6 separate regions of the Homo sapiens genome follow, and all the other regions are linked to region 1. The links come from fine-mapping of genetic effects on gene expression. A gene starts in region 1. Each other region holds a variant in brackets. All regions are shown on one strand. Distances are from middle to middle.

Region 1 (4,091 bases):
GAAGTGCATTTGCCTTAGCTTTCTACATTCTTTCCATAAAGCAAGGGTTCTTCAATCTTCATGGAGTCCCCAAATAACATGTGAATGTGAAGTATTGTGCTAGGTACTGCACGGGATGCCAAAGATGAACAAGGCATGAGTTCTGGGGGAATATACTATCTCTCACAGGAGAAATAAGTAAGTAGCGTACTCAAGTATTAAAGTGAGAACTTAAGTGCTATATGGCAGTTACAATAAAGAGGAAATTTAAAGTAAGGATAGATCATACCAAGTAGGATAAATCAGGAAATGAAGGCTAAACTTTGGAAGTGAGAAATTATTCTGGAAATTCGTGGAACTGCTTAGCGGAATAGGGTTTTCTAAGGAAGGGTACTGACTAAGCAAATGAAACGAAAAAAGGGAATGACTATGTTTCCGCAACTTCAAGAGATCCAGCTTCCCTGCAGGGCAAAGGAGTAACAGGAGAGAAAAAAAGCAATGAATCCGTGCATCCGCTAAACTCTTTTACCATATATTTTACTCTGACAAAACAACTATCACGTATTGGCCTTTTGTTTGTTTGTTTTTTTGAGACACGGTCTCCCTCTTTCGCCCAGGTTGGAGGGCAGTGGCGCAATCACCGTTTTCTGCAGCCTCTACCTCCTCGGCTTAAGCTACCTTCCCGCCTCGACCTTCCAAAGTGCTGGGACTACAGGCGTGAGCCACCATGCTCAGGCTTATTGGCACTTTTCTGTGCACTTTTAAATGTAATCCTCTAAATCACTCTTCTCCACCTTTCCTGTGCATAGGAATCACCTGTGGTTCCCGTTAAATTGGAGATCTTGATTCATTAGGTCTGGGGCGGGGCCTGAGCTTCTGCATTTCCATTGAGCTCACAGCTGAAGCCTACCCTGGACCACACCTTCCAATGGAAAAGGCTCCAGTGTGATTTCTAGCCACTAGTATTATCTGCGAACTTGGGAGAAATAAAATGCAAGTTCTCGGCCCCCGCAAGGGCTCTACTGAATCCGAAACACTGTGGGGAGGCCCACCACTCTGCAGTGTTTTAACAAGCAAGTGGTTAAAGTTTGAGAGCCACCCGTAAGTCACGGGTTTCCTAACATGATTGGACACTGGAATCACCTGCGGATTTTTTTTTTTTTTTTTTTTTTGAGACGGAGTCTCGCTCTGTTGCCCAGGCTGGAGTGCAGTGGCGGGATCTCGGCTCACTGCAAGCTCCGCCTCCTGGGTTCACGCCATTCTCCTGCCTCAGCCTCCCAAGTAGCTGGGACTACAGGCGCCCGCCACTACGCCCGGCTAATTTTTTGTATTTTTAGTAGAGACGGGGTTTCACCGTTTTAGCCAGGATGGTCTCGATCTCCTGACCTCGTGATCCGCCCGCCTCGGCCTCCCAAAGTGCTGGGATTACAGGCGTGAGCCACCGCGCCCGGCCTGCGGATTTTAACTAATACTACTGATGCCGCATCTCACCCCCCCTCCCGAGATTCTCAGGTACGGGGCGTGGCCTTGGCGGCGGCCTTATAAAAGCTCTCCCAGGTGATTCCAACCTGTAGTAACACTTGAGAACTGCGTGAGGTGGGGACTTCAACTTTAACTGGACTTATTTTCCTCCTATGTAAAAGGTGGACAATATGCAAGTGGTCCTGACTTTGCTTCCAGATTTTGGCAACTCCAGAGCCCTAGTTCGGTCTGGAGAGCCAGCTTCCCGCCCCGTGTCCTAAGGCCTCTGTCCGAGAACCCAAAGTCCTGGGAATGGACCCGCGGGAGCGGACCCGCGGGAGCATCTGTGACGCCGCTCAGCAACCCGGCGCCGCCCCGGCGGCTCCGACGTGGCCCAGTGTCCGGCTGGCGTGGGCTCTCCAGGCCGCACCCACTAAACCGCGCCGGAGCGGGACACGCATGCGCCGGTCTGGACCCGGCACCCAGTAACGGACTCGAGCTCCTCCCACCGGAAGTGGGCAGCCGCGCAGCGGGAAGAGCCGGCCGAAGCGTGGCGGCCACAGACTGTGGGTACCGGGTCCGAGGGACTCGCGCTTTTCTCTCCGTGCCATGGCGCCAGCGAAAGCCACGAACGTGGTGCGGCTGCTACTAGGCTCCACAGCGCTGTGGCTTTCGCAGCTCGGCTCCGGGACGGTCGCCGCGTCCAAGTCGGTGACTGCCCACTTGGCCGCGAAGTGGCCCGAGACCCCGCTGCTGCTGGAGGCAAGGTGGGTGCGGGCCGGGCCCTCGTCCGGGCGGGTGTGGGCGCGCTGCCACCCTCAGCCGCGCTTTCTTCGTGCTCGCAGCGGGTGTCTGGCTCCCACCCGGGTTCTCCAGACGCCCCCGCTCTGGCCCTGAGCATCACCACCTCCTTCCTTCCCGACCCGGGGCGGCTTCTCGGTTCCCGTGCAGCACTCACTTGCAGTTCCTTTCCCCCTCAGTCTTACTTTACCTACGATTTTTAAAGCTTCCCTGCCCTGCTTTAATACGTTGGGATGTATTAGCATTTACGCGTGGCACTTAACGCAAGAGCTTCTACTGGGGTAGGCAGTTCTGTTCAGACAGTGCTTAAAGTACCTAGTTTCGTAATGATGACATCATACCATCAGCTCCTAGGCTTACTATGGGGAGGGCAGCTTCCTGCAAGGTAATATTTTTCCTGTATCTCTTCCAACGGAATTAGTTCATGACCTGTCATTTACTCTGCAGAACAAAACTTGTAGCTATTGCATTTTGCCCTTTAGTATTCTAGTTGAGTAAAATTAGAAAGTTCTTTCTCTTAGCAAAAATGAAGTTTTACACCAATGACTTAATGGCTGTTCACCACAGCAACAGTGTGTGTCCCTAAAAAGAGACTCCATGACTCCACATAAGTTCATGTATTTGATGCTAAAAGTTCTTTTTTTTTTTCATTTCTATAGTTTATTGGGGAACAGGTGGTGTTTGGTTACATGAGTAAGTTCTTTAGTGGTGATTTCTGAGATTTTGGTACACCCATCACCCCATCAGTATATACACTGCACCCAATTTGTAGTCTTTTATCCCTCACTCCCTTCTCAACCTTTCCCCCGAGTCCCCGAAGTCCATTGTGTCAATCTTATGCCTTTGCATCCTCATAGCTTAGTTCCCACATATCAGTGAGAACATACTATATTTGGTTTTCCATTTCTGACTTACTTCACTTAGAATAATAGTCTCTAATCTCATCCAGGTTGCTGTGAATGCCATTAATTGATTCCTTTTTATGGCTGAGTAGTGTTCCATCATATATATGCCACAGTTTATCCACTCGTTGATTGATGGGTATTTGGATTGGTTCCACATTTTTGCACTTGTGAATTGTGCTGCTATAAACATACTTGTGCAACTATCTTTTTCATGACTTCTTTTCCTCTGGGTAGATACCTAGTAGTGGGATTGCTGGATCAAATGGTAGATCTACTCTTAGTACTTTGAGGACTCCCCACACTGTTTTCCATAGTGGTTATACTAGTTTACATTCCCACCAGCAGTGTAGAAGTGTTCCCTGTTCGCTGCATCCACGCCAACATCTATTATTTATTTTTATTTTTTTATTATGGCCATTCTTGCAGGAGTAAGGTGGTATCGCATTGTGGTTTTGATTTGTGTTTCCCTGATCATTAGTATGTTGAGCATTTTTTCATGTTAGCCATTTATATATCTTTTGAGAATTGTCTATTCATGTCCTTAGCCCACTTTTTGATGGGACTGTTTTTTTTTTCCTGCTGATTTGAGTTCCTTGTAGATTCTGGATATTAATCCTTTTTCAGATGTATAGATTGTGAAGATTTTCTCCCGTTTTGTGGGTTGTCTGTTTACTCTGCTGACTATTCCTTTTGCCGTGCAAAAGCTGTTTAGTTTAATTAAGTCCCAGCTATTTTTTTTATTATTATACTTTAAGTTCTAGGGTACATGTGCACAACGTGCAGGTACATAGATATACATGTGCCATGTTGGTGTGCTGCACCCATTAACTCATCATTTACATTAGGTGTATCTCCTAATGCTATCCCCCGCTCCCCCAACCCCACAACAGGCCCTGGTGTGTGATGTTCCCCATTGTGTGTCCAAGTATTCTCATTGTTCAGTTC
Region 2 (4,091 bases), 140 kb after region 1:
GTTTTGGTTACTGTAGCCTTGTAGTATAGTTTGAAGTCAGGTAGCGTGATGCCTCCAGCTTTGTTCTTTTGGCTTAGGATTGTCTTGGCAATGCAGGCTGTTTTTTGGTTCCATATGAACTTTAAAGTAGTTTTTTCCAATTCTGTGAAGAAAGTCATTGGTAGCTTGATGGGGATGGCACTGAATCTATGAATTACCTTGGGCAGTGCTGCCATTTTCATGATATTGAGTCTTCCTATCCATGAGCATGGAATATTCTTCCATTTGTTTGTGTCCTCTTTTATTTCTTTGAGCAGTGGTTTGTAGTTCTCTTTGAAGAGGTCCTTCACATCCCTTGTAAGTTGGATTACTAGGTATTTTATTCTCTTTGTAGCAATTCTGAATGGGAGTTCACTCATGATTTGGCTCTCTCTTTGTCTGTTAATGGTGTATAGGAATGCTTGTGATTTTTGCACATTGATTTTGTATCCAGAGACTTTGCTGAAGTTGCTTATCAGCTAAAGGATATTTTGGGTTCAGACGATGGGGTTTTCTAAATATACAATCATGTCATCTGCAAACAGGGACAATTTGACTTTCTCATTTTCTAATTGAACACCCTTTATTTCTTTCTCTTGCCTGACTGCCCTGGCCAGAACTTCCAACACTATGTTGAATAGGAGTGGTGAGAGAGAGCATCCCTGTCTTGTGCCCGTTTTCAAAGGGAATGCTTCCAGTTTTTGCCCATTCAGTATGATATTGGCTGTGGGTTTGTCATAAATAGCTCTTATTATTTTGAGATATGTTCCATCAATACCTAGTTTATTGAGAGTTTTTAGCATGAAGGGCTGTTGAATTTTGTTAAAGGCCTTTTCTGCATCTATTGAGATAATCATGTGGTTTTTGTTGTTGATTCTGTTTATATGATGGATTACATTTATTGATTTGCATATGTTGAACCAGTCTTGCATCCCAGGGATGAAGCCCACTTGATCATGGTGGATAAGCTTTTTGATGTGCTGCTGGATTTGGTTTGCCAGTATTTTATTGAGGATTTTTGCATTGATGTTCATCAGGGATATTGGTCTAAAATTCTCTTTTTTTTGTTGTGTTTCTGCCAGGCTTTGGTGTCAGGATGATATTGGCCTCATAAGTTGAGTTAGGGAGGATTCTCTCTTTTTCTATTGATTGGAATAGTTTCAGAGGGAATGGTACCAGCTCCTCTTTGTACCTCTTGTAGAATTCGGCTGTGAATCCATCTGGTCCTGGACTTTTTTTAGTTGGTAGGCTATTAATTATTGCCTCAATTTCAGAGCCTGTTATTTGTCTATTCAGAGATTCAGCTTCTTCCTGGTTTAGTCTTGGGAGGGTGTATGTGTCCAGGAATTTATCCATTTCTTCTAGATTTTCTAGTTTATTTGCGTAGAGGTGTTTATAGTATTCTCTGATGGTAGTTTGTATTTCTGTGGGATCAGTGGTGATATCCCATTTATCATTTTTTATTGTGTCTATTTGATTCTTCTTTCTTTTCTTCTTTATTAGTCTTGCTAGCAGTCTATCAATTTTGTTCTTTTCAAAAAACCAGCTCCTGGATTCATTGATTTTTTGAAGGGTTTTTTATGTCTCTATCTCCTTCAGTTCTGCTCTGATCTTAGTTATTTCTTGCGTTCTGCTAGCTTTTGAATGTGTTTGCTCTTGCTTCTCTAGTTCTTTCAGTTGTGATGTTAGGGTGTTGATTTTAGATCTTTCCTGCTTTCTCTTATAGGCATTTAGTAGTATAAATTTCCCTCTACACACTGCTTTAAATGTGTCCCAAAGATTCTGGTACGTTGTGTCTTTGTTTTCGTTGGTTTCAAAGAACATCTTTATTTCTGCCTTCATTCGTTATTTATCCAGTAGTCATTCAGGATCAAGTTGTTCAGTTTTCATGTAGTTGAGTGGTTTTGAGTGAGTTTCTTAATCCTGAGTTCTAATTTGATTGCACTGTGATCTGAGAGACAGTTTGTTGTGATTTGTGTTCTTTTATATTTGCTGAAGAGTGGTTTACTTCCAGTTATGTAGTCGATTTTAGAATAGGTGCAATG[C/T]GGTGCTCCAAAGAATGTATATTCTGTTGATTTGGGGTGGAGAGTTCTGTAGATGTCTGTTAGGTCTGCTTGGTGCAGAGCTGAGTTCAGGTCCTGGATATCCTTGTTAACATTTGTCTTGTTGATCTGTCTAATATTGACAGTGGGGTGTTAAAGTCTCCCATTATTATTGTGTGGGAGTCTAAGTCTCTTTGTAGGTCTCTGAGGACTTGCTTTATGAATCTGGGTGCTCCTGTATTGGGTGCATATATATTTGGGATAGTTAGCTATTCTTGTTCAATTCATCCGTTTACCATTATGTACTGGCCTTTTTTGTCTCTTTTAATCTTTGTTGGTTTAAAGTCTGTTTTATCAGAGACTAGGATTGCAACCCCTGCTCTTTTTTCTTTCCATTTGCTTGGTAGATCTTCCTCCATCCCTTTATTTGAGCCTATGTGTGTCTCTGCACATGAGATGGGTCTCCTGAAGACAGCACACTGATGGGTCTTGACTCTTTATCCAATTTCCAGTCTCTGTCTTTTAATTGGGGCTTTTAGCCCATTTAAATTTCAGGTTAATATTGTTATGTGTAAATTTGATCCCGTTATTATGATGTTTGCTGGTTATTTTGCCTGTTAATTGATGCAGTTTCTTCATAGCACCAATGGTCTTTACAGTTTGGCATGTTTTTGCAGTGGCTGGTACTGGTTGTTCCTTTCCATGTTTAGTGCTTCCTTCAGGAGCTCTTGTAAGGCAGGCCTCGTGGTGACAGAATCTCTCAGCATTTGCTTGTCTGTAAAGGATTTTATTTCTCCTTCACTTATGAAGATTAGTTTGGCTGGATATTAAATTCTGGGCTGAAAATTCTTTCCTTTAAGAATGTTGAATATTGTCCCCCACTCTCTTCTGGCTTGTAGGGTTTCTGCTGAGAGGTCCGTTGTTAGTCTGATGGGCTTCCCTTTGTCGATAACTCGACCTTTCTCTCTGGTTGCCCTTAACAGTTTTTTTTTTTTTTTTTTTTTAGTGGGCAGGAATCTTTTTTATTATTATTATTATTATTATTATTATTATTATACTTCAAGTTTTAGGGTACATGTGCACATTGTGCCGGTTAGTTACATATGTATACATGTGCCATGCTGGTGCGCTGCACCCACTAACTCGTCATCTAGCATTAGGTATATCTCCCGATGCTATCCCTCCCCCCTCCCCCCACCCCACAACAGTCCCCAGTATGTGATATTCCCCTTCCTGTGTCCACGTGATCTCATTGTTCAATTCCCACCTATGAGTGAGAATATGCGGTGTTTGTTTTTTTGTTCTTGCGATAGTTTACTGAGAATGATGATTTCCAGTTTCATCCATGTCCCTACAAAGGACATGAACTCATCATTTTTTATGGCTGCATAGTATTCCATGGTGTATACGTGCCACATTTTCTTAATCCAGTCTATCATTGTTGGACATTTGGGTTGGTTCCAAGTCTTTGCTATTGTGAATAATGCCGCAATAAACATACGTGTGCGTGTGTCTTTATAGCAGCATGATTCATAGTCCTTTGGGTATATACCCAGTAATGGGATGGCTGGGTCAAATGACAAGCAATGGGGAAAGGATTCCCTATTTAATAAATGGTGCTGGGAAAACTGGCTAGCCATATGTAGAAAGCTGAAACTGGATCCCTTCCTTACACCTTATACAAAAATCAATTCAAGGTGGATTAAAGACTTAAACGTTAGACCTAAAACCATAAAAACCCTACAAGAAAACCTAGGCATTACCATTCAGGACATAGGCATGGGCAAGGACTTCATGTCTAAAACACCAAAAGCAATGGCAACAAAAGCCAAAATTGACAAATGGGATCTAATTAAACTAAAGAGCTTCTGCACAGCAAAAGAAACTACCATCAGAGTGAACAGGCAACCTACAAAATGGGAGAAAATTTTCGCAACCTACTCATCTGACAAAGGGCTAATATCCAGAATCTACAATGAACTCAAACAAATTTACAAGAAAAAAACAAACAACCCCATCAAAAAGTGGGCA
Region 3 (4,091 bases), 81 kb after region 1:
GAATGTATGAGGTGCTGGAGAAAGCTTCAATCAGGGTGTGTGAAGTTTCGATGCCAGATTGGGGGAAAACAGCAGGAAATATAAATTCACTAGGCATCTGTAGATTTTGAAGTTGGAATATGGATTTCTTAATTAACTTTGATAGGCACATCTAAAGTAGCTAAAGACAAATAAAAATTTTACCTCTGAACCTTTTCATATCAGGGTTTAATCTTTTGCCAGTATTCTGTATAAAACAAGTAGAAATACTTTAAGTTCTTCTCCCTCCTCTGTGTGTAGCTCATCTGTTGAGTGATAATCGTACAGAAAAATTCACCATTGTCAAGCTTTCTCTGAATCTCTTCAAGTTAGTTGCTTCCTCTGCCTTTACAGAGTAGTTCACACAAGTCCCTATTATGTGACTTATCATATGATGTTGAAATACACTGGTTGTTTTTCCTCCTAAATATATTTGCCTACCCTGATAATAACAGCTTTCATTTGTGAGCACTTTATAGGTGACAAGACATAGATGTATATTACATTTAAACTATAGCAAACATGTGAGATAGATATAATTATTCCCATTTTATAGATGAGGAAACTGAGGATTATGAAAGTGATTTGAACTTGCCCAAATCTTAACAGCTAATAAGTAGAAAGATCAGGATTAAACCAAGCATGATCTTCACACTGTGATCTTGACAACCGTACTGGATACTTACACTGTGATCTTGACTACTTTGCTTTAGTGACAAGAACATCCCCCTTTTTACTTTTGTTAACTGTTCTAGCGCCTGGAGATGTTTCTAGAACATAGCAGGCACTCAGGAAATGTTTACTGAATGAAAGACAGTGAAAAATCAAATATAGCTTTAATGGAAACTTTTATGAATTTAGAGTGAGCTCCAAATATTTACACATAAATCAAAGTTTTACTTTTGGCATATCATTGCCTCAAGAAATAGGAATGTGCCAACTAGCAAATTGTATATGTACACATACACACACTATATGAAATGTAGATAAGTAATTATTGTAACATTAGAACTGTAATATCATGTATTGTAAAATCAGAATATTCAGGTATTGAATTTTATCTCTAATCTATCTTAAGATTCCCCCCATCACTGAGATCAGGGCTGGGCAAACTGCTACCTTTAGGCCAAATATGGTCTGCCACCTATTTTTATAAATAAAAGCTTAATTTTTATTTTTATTTATTATTTATTATTTTATTTATTTTTTTGAGATGGAGTTTCGTTCTTGTTGCCCAGGCTGGAGTGCAATGGTGCAATCTTGGCTCACTGCAACCTCCGCCTCCTGGATTCAAGTGATTCTCCTGCCTCAGCCTCCCAAGTAGCTGGGATTACGGGCATGTGCCACCACGCCCAGCTAATTTTTTGTGTTTAGTAGAGATGGGGTTTCACCATGTTGGTCAGGGTGGTCTTGAACTCCTGACCTCAGGTGATCCACCCACCTCGGCCTCCCAAAGTTCTGGCATTACAGGCGTAAGCCGCCACGCCTGGCCTAAAAGCTTAATTTTTACAATAAACATTGCAATGTCCATTTGTTTACATAGTATCTAAAGATACAAAGGCAGAGATCAATAATTGCAACAGAGACTGTATGGCCTGCCAAACCTAAAATATTTACTCTCTGACTCTTTATAGAAATAATATGGTGACCCCTAATATAGGTCACTATTGTTCTATCACTGGTTAACTATTGCTTTGCTCTACTTCAAGGATCTTCAAGTTAGATTTAAAATTCAGCCAGGCGATGCTCGTCTATTTATAAATGGCCTTCGTGTTGATATGGATGTTTATGACGCTTTTAGGTAAGTATTAAATTATTGCTGTAAATGAACTATGGTTTATATAAAAATAAACATTGTCTTGAATTTAGTGTAAGTCAAAATATGAAGATCACTTTAAAGATAAATACATGTTTTTGATTGTACAAAACAGCTTTCTTCTACCAAAATGGGCAAGCCCAAAGTGTCTTAGAATATCAGAACTGGGAGAAACAGTCAAGATATTTGTTTGGATGAGGGTTAGACCTATAATTACTTTGTTATTCTAAACTGTCTCTTATTGAAGAGTAGATTGATGATTTGCAGAGAAGTTATTTGGAACTGGACTGAACAACCAGATACCAGATAAGGACTGAAGTCAACATGGGGTATTTCCCCAGAAGACAGAAATTGACAAGAGGAATTTAAAATGCTTGTATTTGAATGCTGGATGCTATCTGGTTTCTTGTCAAAAAAAAAAAAAAAA[AT/T]TCTTCAAAATTTTTTTGCTCAGAATTTTGAACAGGACAGAATTAGGAAGTCCTTGCTTTATCAATGGTCACTCACCCAAAATTACAGTTGTGGGCCAAACAGAAGAGTTACTTTTATAGAGAAACATAAAACTACATTAAAATTAATATTTGAAACATTAGATGAACTTAGGATACATGATACTTTAATTCAGATGTTCAGTTTTAATTCAATTGAATATACTTTTGTTGAAGTGAAATTATTTGAATTGTTTATTTAAATTCTTACCAGTTTGGAAATACGTTGGAAAATATATTGGAAAGACTGAGAAGTAGTTTTACTGAACATTTTTTACAGTTTTATCTCAAATGGGGCTTTTCTCTTTAGTTACTTGAATTCTTGGACCTAGTATTGTAAAAATAATAAGATAGATACATATAATACACATAGAAAGAGTAGAGAAGTTTGTAAATGCTAGCCTGTAAATTTCAGGGGAACAAAAATTATATATGTGCCCAGCAGCAGTGAAAACAGGTTTAAAGGAAGTAGTGAAATGGTATGTAGATTTTAGAAAGTTTTCTAAGGTAGTGTATGAGGAAATTTTTATGGCAGGAATATTTTCACGTATAATTTAGGAAGGCTGTAGGTTATTAAAAAAATAAAACCCCCCAGCTCCTACACCTGGTCATTAGTGATTTGCAGGATGTGTGCTACATTGTTATTCCTCATTGATTTGATCACTGCTTAGTGCTACCATGATTCTCTTAAAAGAGGAAGAGACAAAATGTGAGAATATTTGTGTCTTCAGAGGATGTGGAATAAAATTAATGCAAAGAGGAAGATGAATGGAAGAAAATAAGGAAATGGAAGTAAAATGTCATATTACAGAGACATTATATATAGAGAGGTTTTATGCAGCCAATACTTTGGAATCGTCCATGTGGGGAAAGAACAGGAGTAAAGGATTTATTTTGTGCTCCCTTCCTATCTCCTTTCAGTCATTGCATTACTGGGTTGTGGAGAACCAATAACATGCCCCATACATGGCCCAGCCCTTCTTGCTCTGATCCTGAGAGTAGCGGGAGGAGCCAGAGCCTCCATGGGTTAGGATTAGATCAGCATTGGTTCTATAAAGGCCTACATCTCACCCCCAGGGAGACTGAGACAGTAAGAACATGTGACTTTGACTGGGGAGAAAGGCAAGTAGGACTGATGAAGTCCATAAGCAGGGTCTTATATATCTACATTAAAACATTCTGTTCTAGCCCATTAAAGAGTCCCTTTTATATTTTTGCCTCTGAATAGTCGCCTCAGCCACAGACTTGATGAAGAGTAGTTTAAACATTTAGATTCCCCAATTTGTTGTCAATGGGGTTATTGTTGATGTTGTTGTTTACAGTAATACTTTCTATTATGTTTAAGAACTTTCAAATTATATGTAATAAAAAATTTAAATTTGTATTCAAACACACGTGAACTTCATGATTTAATGGAGCTTCCTCTGTATTAGAATTTTATACTTTATGTCTTGTTCGATCTTACATTATTTTTGTAGTAGGTTTGTCAAAAGAGTGACCTAATATTTTTTTTCTCATTTTTGGCTTTCTCAGGGCTGATCATATCCTCACTACTTTGATAAAGAATACAATAGTCTTTGTTGTTTTATCTTTTATATAATAATAAGTTTTTACTACCACTAAAATTATGTAAGTTTACTCTGGATAACTAATTAGAACTATTTGCCTTATTTCTTAATGAGTTTAATATATTTTTCCTGCTATTAATGAAGATACCAAAAAATCTCATTTCTAATGCTTTAAGACTATCAAACTTTAAAACATTTGTTTTT
Region 4 (4,091 bases), 120 kb after region 1:
CCCGACGAGTGCTGCCCCCTGCTCCGCGGCGCCCAGTCCCATTGACCGCTCAAGGGCTGAGGAGTGCCGGTGCAAGGTGCGGGAGTGGCGGGCAGCTCCCCCTGCGGCCCAGGTGTGGGATCCACTAGGTGAAGCCCCTGGGCTCCAGAGTCTAGTGGGGACTTGGAGAACCTTTATGTGTAGCTGAGGGATTGTGAATACACCAATCAGCACTCTGTGTCTAGCTCAAGATTTGTAAACACACCAATCAGTACCCTGTGTCTAGCTGGAGGTTTGTAAATGCACCAATCAGTGCTGTGTCTAGCTCATCTAGTGGGGACTTGGAGAACTTTTGTGGCTAGCTCAGGGATTGTAAACACACCAATCAGCACCCTGTCAAAACGGACCAATCAGCTCTCTGTAAAACAGACCAATCAGCTCTCTGTAGAATGGACCAATCAGCAAGATGTGGGTGGGGCCAGATAAGGGAATAAAAGCAGGCTGCCCAAGCCAGCCGTGGCAACCCGCTTGGGTCCCTTTCCATGCTGTGGGAGGTTTGTTCTTTTGCTCTTTGCAGTAAATCTTTCTGCTGCTCAGTCTTTGGGTCCGTGCTGCCTTTGAGAGCTGTAACACTCACCATAAAAGTCTGCACCTTCACTCCTGAAGCCAGCGAGACCACCAACCCACCAGAAGGAGAAAACCCCGAACACATCTGAACATCAGAAGGAACAAACTCTGGACACTCCATCTTTAAGAACTGTAACACTCACCGCGAGGGTCCACAGCTTTATTCTTGAAGTCAGTGTGATCAAGAACCCACCAATTCCGGACACAGTATTACCCAACTTCACAGTACACTATGAGGCTACAGTAACCAGAGCAGCATGGTACTGGTACAAAAATAGACACATAGACTAATGGAACAGAGTAGAGAACCCAGAAATAAAGCCACACACCTACAAACATTTTAGCTTTGAAAAGTTGATGAAAATTAGTGGGAAAAGGGTCCTCGATTCAATAAATGGTCCTAGGATAGTTGGCTAGCCATATGCAAACAAAACTGGACCCCTACTTTTCACCACGTTCAAAACTTAACAAGATGGATTAAACAGTTAAGTATAAGACTTAAAACTATAAGAATTCTAGAAGAAAACCTAGGAAACACCGTTCTGGACATCAGTCTTGGGAAAGAATTTATGGCTAAGATCTCAAAAGCAATTGCATCAAAAACAAAAATTTGACGAGTGGGACCTAATTAATTAAAGAGTACAACAAAAGAAACTCGCAACAGAGTAAACAGACAGCCTACAGAATATACAGAAAATATTCACAAACTGTATATCCGACAAAATTCTAATATCCATAAGTAGCAAATAAATCAAGCAAAGAATAAATAACCCCATTAAAAAGTAGGCAAATGACATTAACAGGTACTTCTCAAAAGAAGACACGCAGGCGGCCAACAAGCATATAAAGAAATGTTCAACACTACTAATCCTTAGAGAAGTGCAAATCAAAACCAAAAGGAGACACCATCTCGTACCATTTAGAATGGCTGTTATTAAGTGAACAAACAACAGATGCTGGTGAGGCTGAGGAGGAAGGGGAACGCATATACACTGTTAGTGGGGATGTAAATTAGTTCAGCCCCTTTGGAAAGCAGTTTGTAGATGTTTCAAAGAACTTAAAACAGAACTACCATTCAACCCAGCAATCCCATTACTGGGTACATCTCCAGAGGAAAATAAATCGTTCTACCAAAAAGACACATGTATGTTCACTGCAGCACTATTCATAATAGCAAAGATGTAGAATCAGCCTAGGTGTCCATCAGTGGTGGATTGGTTAAAGAAAATGTGGTGCATATATACACCATGGAATACTACGCACCCATTAAAAATGAAATCGTCCCCTTTGGAGCAACATGGACTCAGCTGGAGGCCAAGCAAACTAACACAGAAACAGGAAACCAAACACTGCATGTTCTCTCTTATGAGTGGGAGCTAAACATT[T/C]GGTACTCATAGACATAAAGATGGCAGCAAGAGACACTGGGGATTTCTAGAGGGGAGAGGGAAGGAAAAAGTCAGGGAAGGGTTGGAAAACTATCTGGTACTATGCTAACTACCTGGGTAATGGGATCAGTCATAACCCCAACTTCAGCATTACATGATACACCTGTGTTGTAACCAATCTGCATGTGTACCCTCGAATCTAAAATAAAAGCTGAAATTCTTTAAAAATATATTTAATTAAATTTATCTTAGGCATAATTGCATCTAAAATTGCTTAATTGGAAAAAGTTGTAATTTTTACAAGGAAATGTATTCTCCCTCCCCCTCTCCCTCATCTCCCTCTGATGCCAAGCCGAGGCTGGACTGTACTGCCTCCATCTTGGCTCACTGCAACCTCCCTGCCTGATTCTCCTGCCTCAGCCTGCCTAGTGCCTGGGATTGCAGGCGCGCGCCGCCACGCCTGACTGGTTTTCGTATTTTTTGGTGGAGACGGGGTTTCGCTGTGTTGGCCGGGCTGGTCTCCAGCTCCTGACCTCGAGTGATCTGCCAGCCCCGGCCTCCCGAGGTGCCGGGATTGCAGATGGAGTCTCGCTCACTTAGTGCTCAATGTTGCCCAGGCTGGAGTGCAGTGGCATGATCTCGGCTCACTACAACCTCCACCTCCCAGCCGCCTGCCTTGCCCTCCCAAAGTGCCGAGATTGCAGCCTCTGCCCGGCCGCCACCCCGTCTAGGAAGTGAGGAGCATCTCTGCCTGGCCGCACATCATCTGGGATGTGAGGAGCCCCTCTGCCCAGCCGCCCAGTCTGGGAAGTGAGGAACACCTCTTCCCGGCCGTCATCCCGTCTAGGAAGTGAGGAGCGTCTCTGCCCGGCTACCCACCTTCTGGGATGTGGGGAGCGCCTTTGCCCCGCCGCCCCGTCTGGGCTGTGAAGAGCACCTCTGCCCCGCCGCGACCCCGTCTGGGAACTGAGGAGTGTCTCTGCCCCGCCACCACCCCGTCTGAGAGGTGAGGAGCGTCTCTGACCGGCTGCCCCGTCTGAGAAGTGAGGAGCCCCTCCGCCCAGCAGCCGCCCCATCTGGGAAGTGAGGAGCCCCTCCGCCCGGCAGCCGCCCCGTCCGGGAAGTGAGGAGCGTCTCCGCCCGGCAGCCGTCCTGTCCGGGAGGTGGGGGGCAGCCCTCGCCAGGCCAGCCGTCCCGTCGGGGAGGTGGGGGGCAGCCCCTGCCCGGCCAGCCGCCCCGTCCAGGAGGTAGGGGGCAGCCCCTGCCCGGCCAGCTGCCCCGTCCGGGAGGTGGGGGGCGCCTCTGCCCGGCCGCCACCCCGTCTGGGAGGTGTACCCAACAGCTCATTGAGAACGGGCCATGATGACGATGGCGGTTTTGTCGAATAGAAAAGGGGGAAATGTGGGGAAAAGAAAGAGAGATCAGATTGTTACTGTGTCTGTGTAGAAAGAAGTGGGCATAGGAGACTCCATTTTGTTCTGTACTAAGAAAAATTCTTCTGCCTTGGGATGCTGTTAATCTATAACCTTACCCCCAACCCCGTGCTCTCTGAAACATGTGCTGTGTCCACTAAGGGTTAAATGGATTAAGGGCGGTGCAAGATGTGCTTTGTTAAACAGACCCTGCAAGGCAGCATGTTCGTTAAGAGTCATCACCACTCCCGAATCTCAAGTACCCAGGGACACAAACACTGCGGAAGGCGGCAGGGCCCTCTGCCTAGGAAAACCAGAGACCTTTGTTCACAAGTTTATCTGCTGACCTTCCCTCCACTATTGTCCTGTGACCCCGCCAAATCCCCCTCTCCGAGAAACACCCAAGAATGATCAATAAATACTAAAAAAATTTAAAAAAACAACAAAAAAGCAAACAAACAAACAAACAAAAAAATTCAGTGAGTTAATTAATGAGAATTGTCCTGCTCACAATAGGTGCTCAAGAAATGGTTACTACCATGATTCTGGTTGTGAAGTGAAATTGCCAACACCTGAGACAGAGCTCATTAAATGTTTACCAAACTGAAGAATAAAAAAAAAAAAAAAAAAGAAAGAAAATGTATTGTAATAATTCTAAATTGCTTATTTATTTTTGATTAAGTAATCT
Region 5 (4,091 bases), 30 kb before region 1:
GGCTAAGTCCTGAAGGATTAGAATGGTCTAGCCGTGCCAGACATCCTGGAGAAGAGCTTTCTAAGCAGAACAATAAGCACAAAGGTCTGGAGCAGAAAAGAATTTAGGGGGCTCCAGACAGACAAATGATAGAGAAATGAAAGAGAGGGAGGTTTGGGGTCAGAGCCATGATAGTGGGTGCAAAGTAGTCATTGAGGAAATGACAGGACTGATTGATACTAAAAGCTTACTGGGATCCATGAAGAATGGATTAGGAAAGACAAAAGAGAAAGCAGAGAAATCAGTTAGGAAGTGGCTGTTGTTCTCCAGGCAAGAGATGGTGGGGACTTGGGATAGGCTGGCAATGGTGGGGAAAATAATTTACAGACACAAGTCCACGGGCCTAGTATGGAAAGATTTCACTTCTTCATTTTCAAATAACAAAATGAGACTTTGCCTTTAAGATTCTATTGCCTGATACAGAGGGAAATGAGAAGCATTCAACTTACGTTAATTCAGTCACTTCTGAGTTAACCTCTGTATCTTTGGAATAAATAGTCAAATTCATGTTTCTCCCCTCCCCTTCTTCTTTGCTTTTTCCTGCAGTGAGCTAAGCCCTTTCGTACTGGCTAAGGGAATTGTGGTCTGCAGGGGAGTTTCCTTTTCCTGCTGCTCCCCCTCACCCCCTCCATGTGCAGTTATTCCTACCTGATCGCAGGTGCAAGCCTGGATTTCTGCTGGGTCTTCTGCTGCCTTGTTAGAATCTAAGCTGTCATGTCCACATGCTCTACATCTTCCTCCACTGAACTGCGAGCCCACTTCTGTCTGCCACCTCAGCTCTTCTGTGGCCCTTTCTCAAGGGCCTGTTAGCATGGAAACCAGTGATGTTTAACCCCATCAGATGGAGCACTCATTTTTATTAAACAAATGTTTTGAAGTAATCCCTTTAATGATCTCAAGTTAAGCATCATAGATAATAGAATCTACCTACACACAATTTCTCAGAAATTAACATAATGCTCTAATTGTAATGTAAATGAAACATGAAAAGAAAGTAATTAATAAAACACTGTGTATTGCAACGTGTAAATGCTGAGACCTGACTACTGTAGACAACATAAAGAAGTTCGCAGATGCTTATGACTTTTAACTATCTCAAGTTTGGACATAGAGAAGTAAGAGCACAAGACATTCTTTTCAAGAAGCAAATAAAAGAGCAAGGCGCCTGTAGTCCCAGCTACTCAGGAGGCTGAGGCAGGAGAATGGCGTGAACCCCCGGGGGCGGAGCCTGCAGTGAGCCGAGATCGCGCCACTGCACTCCAACCTGGGCGACAGCGAGACTCCGTCTCAAAAAAAAAAAAAAAAAAATTGCAGAGGTGTTTGTGGACACCAGAATTAAAATTAGTGATAGGCTAAGTAAGAATAATTCTGACTTAAAAATTGACATATAAGAAAAAGGAGAGAAAAACCTTGGTTGAAGCAATCACACACCCAGACAAATTATAGACTTTTAGAGTGAAGAAATTGGGGAAGTATAATGTTCCCCAATTAACTAGGCTTTTAAAAAAATGTCTGGTCAAAATACTTCTCTATAACATAAAATATCTCGGTGGAACCCCGTCTCTACTAAATATACAAAAAATTAGCCGCGCGTGGTGGCGGGCGCCTGTATTCCCAGCTACTTGGGAGGCTGAGGCAGGAGAATGGCGTGTACCCAGGGGGCGGAGCTTGCAGTGAGCCTAGATCGTGCCACTGCACTCCAGCCTGGGCAACACAGCAAGACTCCGTCTCAAAAAAATAAAAATAAAAATAAAATAAATAAAATAAAATATCTCAAAAAACATAACTTGTATCTTGAAATCCTACTATACATCAAAGGATAATCCAGTTTCTGAATGTAGGG[C/T]GATATTTGCAAGTCACGTGAATGCAAGACAATTCTATCATTGCCCCCACCAAATAAATGCCAGTAATAAATAAATCATCGTGAGGTGCTGACCAAACACCAAACTGCAGACTATAAACTCTTTCCTAGCCATTAATTCCACTCCTAACGAGTATCTAGAAATCCCCCTATCTTTCCTCTGTCAAAAAAAAAAAAGCCAGTTTAGAAGACATAAAAAGACTAGGAACACACGTTTCCTCACTGTCCTTATACTTTGGCTCTTGATAGTAAAGGCACATTTTAGAATTTTTAAATGATGCCATTTTTTTCCCTTTGAAAAGTCTGATTTTGAAACCATTTGAAATCAAGGTAACATAGTAAGTGATAGTACTCAGATTTGAACCAGGTAGTCTGATTCCAGAGGTGGAAAGAAGTGATGGCAAGATGGATGTTAGAAGTCAAATCAACAGGATTTACTGAAAGATTGAATAAGAGGAAGTGAACAATGGATGAATCAAAGATGTTTCTCGGGGTGTCTCTTGAGCTCCTGGAAGCCTGATAGTTCCATTTACTAAAAAGAAGAAAATGAGAGAGAAAAAGTTAGGAGGTGTTGAGGGTGGGGAGCAGCGAGGGCGAATTTTGAGTTCTGCTTTAGGTGAGCTAGGTTTAGACTGCTAATGAGACAGCTAAATGGAGATATCAAATAAATAGCTGGATATAGGATCTAGAGTTCATGCAGTAATTCTAGACAGGAGATTAAAATGTGGTGGTTTTAATAACATAGGTAACATAATAGCAGTGAGTGCTCAATAAATATTTGTTGACAGAATCTGTAAAAGACTAAATAAGCAATTACCATGGTCCAAGAGAGAAATGAGACCTCAAACAAAAGGAATAGCAATGGAACAGAAGTGTACACATTTGAGAAATATTCCAAAGGTAGAAACAATAGGATTCAGTGACTAAGTAGGAAGGGGTGAGAGAGGAAGAAATTGAGGATGACTCAAAGTGTGCTAGCTTGGAAAGCTAAGTGAATGGTAAGGTCATTAATATGGGAGGCAAAACAGATGACTGGGCATGAAAATCAGTGTAGATGACTATTCTTTCTCTTAGCAAACTAGAATGTTTGTGTTTTTCAAATGGCTTTGAGCTTCAAAATGTTTACTTACATTTTAAGAAAGCAAGCTTTAAAAATACACTTTAATTTGTCTGCAGCAAGACAGATAACTTTAGTTTAATTATTACCTTTGGAAAAAAAATCCTAGGTGGAAACACATTTGGTAAAAACTGTTTTCTCTTTCCTAATGTTTTATATCACAAATCAGGATGTAATCCTCCTCTTTTCTACATTGGCCATGAATTTTATTTTTTTCTCTCTCTCTTCATATATGTGGATACATTTTTTAAATCATAAGAAATCAAATGTCTAAAGCAGGCTCTAAGAGATATTTTAGGTAATTGTTCTTTGCTTCATTAGGATGGCCTTTTTCAACAGCACAGAAAGATGATCCAGAAGCTTCTAAGAGCAGCTTTTGAATAGGACTCTTAGTTTTTTAGGTACTTACCACAGTGCTTTGCACTCAGTAGGCATCTGAATAAATGTTCTTTGAACATGTTAAGAAGTAAATATGTTCTCCCTTTAAATTGCCAAAAGAGTTTTCACAAAATCCCTTGCTAACATATCCCTAGCTTCAAAACCCTGACACTTCTTGTTTACGTTTTATCTAAGGTGAAGTGAGCTTTGACTCCTTTGGCAAATCGTTCAGTGTGTTCCTACTACTGATAACAACCTTTTTAGTATGACCTTTTGCTATCATTTAAACCAATGTTCCTAGTGAAATGTCTGTTGAATTATACCACATAAAAGCAAAACTCTATTACATATATTTTATATATATATATATGAATATACATATTCATTTATCAAAAAGACTGGTCACCTTGCCATGGAAGCATATTAGCTACCCAACAAAATTATTTTTGCTACCTTATAAAGGTTATTAAATAGAACCTTTTTATCTTCCAAACCTGTATGATTACTTCTCTTTTTTTCCTCTAAGGGATCAGGCAGTATAAACACTTATTGTCCTGAGAGCATTTTCGTAAAGCTTTGAGTTCTGCTTATGATTGTTCTAGTTTTCTATTTTATCAAGAAGCATATTCTGAATATTTTAAAAATCCACAGTTTAATGTAGCCATTAATCTTCGTACCCAAACCCAAACCCAAGTC
Region 6 (4,091 bases), 170 kb after region 1:
CCAGGGAAATGAAAAGAAAGTATTTATTCGTAGGTAGCCAAGAACTTCCAAATCCCAAAAGAATCAGGACACCACCAACGTTGTTGTAAGGTCACCACTTTGTATTTGCAGATCAAGGTTCTAGTAATTATTTTCCTTGTTCTTCAATACTAAGGAAATTTAGATACTATGAAAAAAAGTCACTTTAGGCAAAGGGCAAGCAGCATAACCCTGGGACATTGAAATCAACTGTTTGGATTAAAATCTTGCCTGTGCTGTGAGTTTCTGTGTGACCTTAATCTCTCTGTACCTAAACTGCAAAAGTACTATTTCAGCAGGGCGTTGTAAGGATCAAGTGAGATAATGAACATAAAGTTTTAATATAGTACCTGGTACATAGTAAATACATAATAAATATTAGCTATTAATATTATTTAATATCAAACATGGGAATTTCTTTCCAATAGGTACTTGGCAAGATTATCAACATGAAGATAAAGTTGTTCATGAACTGTAGGGGCAGGCTTTCAGAAGCCCCTTTAGAAAGGTAAATCTGAGTGAACAAAATTTCATTTTGAAAAATTTGTAAATGCTGAGAAGAAAAAAACAATCATTGTTACTGGACCTGGTTTTTTCTTTTCTTCACAAGATGCTTCAAAGAAATAAGTCAGAAGGTCAGACTATTTACTAACCTTAACTGACTTAAAATTGATATAAAAATTAAAATAACCTAACTCAGCAAAGTGATCTGACCTAATTACAGAATTTACATGGATTTATATTTATTCATAGGTATTTTTGGAAATGTGATTTAGGAATACCTATTTAGATATACATCAATGGGAAATAAGGTGGAATTAAACCATTTTTGGTTTAGCAGAATTACCAAAATGATCTTTATTATATCATCACATTTACTATTTGGGGGCATTAGGATAAAATTAGCTTAGAATAACCTGCCAGAGATATAAAAAAGTGTTGTTTATAATTATATACAAATATTCCTCATTAACACTCTTCTGTTGAAATAACATTCTCTCTCAAGAGGGGACAAAAATATACCCTTTCTCTTCTTTGTGGATCAGAATCACTGTCATTCATTATGAGCCATTCTTATTGATGGGAATATTCAGTTCTCCTTCATGTGTCATTGGGCAGAAAACAGGGTATGTACCATTGCACTAGTATAGCTTTTTAAGACTTTTTAATGTGCTCATCTCTGTATTATTTAATGATGTAATTCTAAACAAAAAATGTATGCATACACACACAAGACAGGTAGCATTCTGTTCATTCCTTGTTTACTTTTCAAATTGTATTTGTTACAACTGACATACTATAGATGTTGCCTTGAGCAGAACTTTTTTTTATTTTTATTTTTATTTTTTTTGGAGACAGGTTCTCACTCCCATTGTCCAGGCTGGGGCACCATCACAGTTCACTGTAGCCTCGACTTCTCAGGCTCAGGTGATTTTCCCACCTCAGCCTCCTGAGTAACTGGGACTACAGGTACGTGCCACCACGCACAGTTTTTTTGTTTTGTTTTGTTTTGTATTTTTGTAGAGACGGGGTCTTGCCATGTTCTCCAGGCTGGTTTTGAACTCCTGGCCTCAAGAGATACACCTGCCTTGCTCTCTCAAAGTGCTGGGATTATAGGCATGAGCCACTGTGCCCAGCCAGAGCAGGCATTTTAAACCTAAGTATTTTTAATAGTTGGAAAGCAATAAAATGGAAAATGTGGGAAATTTAAGTGAAAGTTTAGGACTTATTCATTGTCCCTCAAGACTCTTGTCCATATATCTCATTGAGTTTTTATGCTTCTCATTTATCTTTTGTATTTTAAATTTTATCACATGCCTTTTTACATCTGAACAAAAACTTTAAATTTTTTAGCTACTAATTGAAAGGTTTGTTAGTTCCATAAGTACAGAATTTTTATTCACAGGAGTAGGGGTCCTCTCTGTAAAACATCACATTATGTAATAAAGAATAGGATTACTGAACATATAAGCAAGCATAATCTACTGGGAGGGAAAGAATTGACTTTTCTAAATGAAATAATGTACTAGAGTATACAGTTATTTTTTTAACTAGTAGTTCAACAGAATCTTATTAACTCAGTAGCATATATCAAGCAACCTAGCATACACATTTATTCCCAGCCCTTTCCTTTTAGTAAATTTATTCTTCTCAGAGATGAGACAGGTTAAGGGCAGGAATCCCCTCAGCTTCTTACTCTTAACTGCTATACTTCCTCAGCCTTCCTGT[A/G]TTGTAGGGAAGGAATGAGGCATCTTTCTTCTTTTTTAGTTAAACATTCCCACTCTGTTTTGATCTCATGCTTTCCTGTTTGTTCTGGATCCTTGCTATATCACATATTCTCTCTTGTGGATCTTTAATCTCTATACTAGCTTTTTTCATTCAGTCCTTAAAGTTATTCAATTTTTTTAAAAGTTGCTCCCTTAACTTTCTCTCCTCTAGAGTCTTTTTTTTCCCTCTTCTTCATTCCTTCTTAACTAAATTTCTTCAAAGAATGGTCAGACTCTGTCTTCATATCTCATTCACTGTACCTTCCACTGCAGTTTCTCTTTAACTTTCTCTTTGCCACTGAAATTGTATTTACCAAATCACAAAGAAATTGCTACTCACTACATTCAGAGAATACTTTTTCTTTGATATTTCCACTGCAGCAAGAATTTGTTTTGAACATTTACTTCATGACTGTATTCTCTCCTGTTTCTCCTCTTTTTATTTTCTTTGTCTATCTGCATAACATGGCTCCCAGTGATCACCACTGCCTGGGACTCACACTCTGAAAGTTCTCCTGGAGTGAGAGCTAGACCTAGTGATTTGGCTCTCATAAAACAAAATATGGCTAAAGTGATGGAATTTCCCTTCTGCAATTAGGTTATGAAAGACTGTGACTTTTGTCTTGCTGACATTCTCTCTCTGTGGCTCTTCTGTGTGCTTCTCTTTTGAAGCATATTGGAGATGCCTTTTTGGGAAGTAACTGCAAGCAGTCTGCAGACAACTACCAGCAAGGAACTGCGGTCCTCATTCAGACAGCCCTTGGGGAACTAGAAGAACCTGGAAGTAGATCCTACCCTTGTTGAGCCTTGAGAGAACTACAGCACAGCTGACACCTTGACTGCAGTCTCAAAATAGTAAAAGCCACTAGCCTTGATAGCATAACATAATAATTCTGTGCACAATATTGAAGGATGAGGTTAAAATACAGCAAAACTGAAGTTAAGTCTAAAAGTGCTATTAAGCAGTTGCTTTCAACTTAATCCTATTTGTTTTTAGTTGAGCTTTTAAAAGTGGTACTAGAATTTCAGCTTGAATTTCATTTGTTTCCTACCATTTCTCTTCATATTATTAGTGGTGGTAAAAGTTAATAAAATAGCTGAAAAATAGACCATGGTCAGATTTGAAGGAGGATGCATACAAATCATAATACAATAACAGATCATAAACTCCTAGAACCTGCATAAGTCAGGTATATCTTAAAGGGATTCTAATCATGTTCATTAAGGAATAGTTAACAATGGTAGATAATATACATAGACTTAGATAGTAGTGTCAACAAATAATGATTGTCTATTTCTCATAAGCATTAACTTTTCTGCAGTATAATGCATCTTAGTCTTTTTGATTGTAGACTTCTGGTCAGATCATTAAGCAATTTTCAATTTTGAAAATATTTTAAAAGAAAAATCTCAGTTTTGGTCACATTATGTATTTTTATGTTTTATTAACAGCTTTTACCGTTTTGTTCTGGAACCAGAACTGATGTCAGGGGCTAATGACGTTTCTTCTCTTGGACCAGTGGCAAAATTTTTGGATATTCCTGAATCACCCCTCCTAATCCTCAACATGATTACTCCAGAAGGCTGGTTGGTTGAAACAGTGCACAGCAACTGTGACCTTGATAATATTCACTTAAAGGATGTAAGTTATTGTGTATAGTCATATAAAGAGAGAGAAACAGGATAAATTCTTATCAGCTATTACAATTGTAGCAAGTGAGCAATCATACTATGAATGTTTACCAGAATATTCTTTTTTATGATTCTAGGTCCTGATCCAATCTTTCCTTTGATTTTTAAGTTTTT

Direction of the effects. Alleles are on the strand shown, and positions count from the first base shown. SD is a standard deviation of normalised expression in the study named. Not every link is listed here.
For the expression in monocytes of the gene that starts at base 1,961 in region 1, allele T in region 3 goes with a higher level than allele AT (large effect, 0.87 SD a copy in Schmiedel 2018).
For the expression in atrial appendage of the gene that starts at base 1,961 in region 1, allele C in region 4 goes with a higher level than allele T (small effect, 0.35 SD a copy in GTEx).
With allele C in place of T in region 5, the expression in transverse colon of the gene that starts at base 1,961 in region 1 is lower (small effect, 0.37 SD a copy in GTEx).
For the expression in tibial nerve of the gene that starts at base 1,961 in region 1, allele A in region 6 goes with a lower level than allele G (moderate effect, 0.48 SD a copy in GTEx).

The links. PIP is the estimated chance that this variant, and not a neighbour inherited with it, causes the effect.
Region 2: its variant is the best candidate, but not a certain one, in a credible set for the expression of UGGT2 in monocytes after Pam3CSK4 (Quach 2016, PIP 0.52).
Region 3: its variant is the best candidate, but not a certain one, in a credible set for the expression of UGGT2 in monocytes (Schmiedel 2018, PIP 0.89).
Region 4: its variant is the best candidate, but not a certain one, in a credible set for the expression of UGGT2 in atrial appendage (GTEx, PIP 0.75).
Region 5: its variant is the best candidate, but not a certain one, in a credible set for the expression of UGGT2 in transverse colon (GTEx, PIP 0.53).
Region 6: its variant is the best candidate, but not a certain one, in a credible set for the expression of UGGT2 in tibial nerve (GTEx, PIP 0.62).

The regions. Positions count from the first base shown.
Region 1 is chr13:96,051,271-96,055,361 of GRCh38, reverse strand. It overlaps UGGT2 (UDP-glucose glycoprotein glucosyltransferase 2), which reads left to right and starts at 1,961. Exons shown (of 39, transcript NM_020121.4): 1 at 1,961-2,207. The coding sequence starts at 2,050. RefSeq lists an enhancer at 1,700-2,199.
Region 2 is chr13:95,908,773-95,912,863 of GRCh38, reverse strand. All of the region lies in intron 20 of UGGT2 (UDP-glucose glycoprotein glucosyltransferase 2), which reads left to right. Among named protein-coding and RNA genes, the nearest start is that of UGGT2, 140 kb to the left of the region's middle. The variant C/T (reference allele first, on the strand shown) is at 2,064.
Region 3 is chr13:95,970,308-95,974,398 of GRCh38, reverse strand. UGGT2 (UDP-glucose glycoprotein glucosyltransferase 2) reads left to right here. Exons shown (of 39, transcript NM_020121.4): 11 at 1,728-1,819. Among named protein-coding and RNA genes, the nearest start is that of UGGT2, 81 kb to the left of the region's middle. The variant AT/T (reference allele first, on the strand shown) is at 2,262.
Region 4 is chr13:95,927,413-95,931,503 of GRCh38, reverse strand. The region is part of intron 17 of UGGT2 (UDP-glucose glycoprotein glucosyltransferase 2); the gene reads left to right. Among named protein-coding and RNA genes, the nearest start is that of UGGT2, 120 kb to the left of the region's middle. The variant T/C (reference allele first, on the strand shown) is at 1,992.
Region 5 is chr13:96,081,608-96,085,698 of GRCh38, reverse strand. No RefSeq gene overlaps it. Among named protein-coding and RNA genes, the nearest start is that of HS6ST3, 6.5 kb to the left of the region's middle. The variant C/T (reference allele first, on the strand shown) is at 1,883.
Region 6 is chr13:95,884,327-95,888,417 of GRCh38, reverse strand. It overlaps UGGT2 (UDP-glucose glycoprotein glucosyltransferase 2), which reads left to right. Exons shown (of 39, transcript NM_020121.4): 26 at 447-526; 27 at 3,738-3,927. Among named protein-coding and RNA genes, the nearest start is that of UGGT2, 170 kb to the left of the region's middle. The variant A/G (reference allele first, on the strand shown) is at 2,248.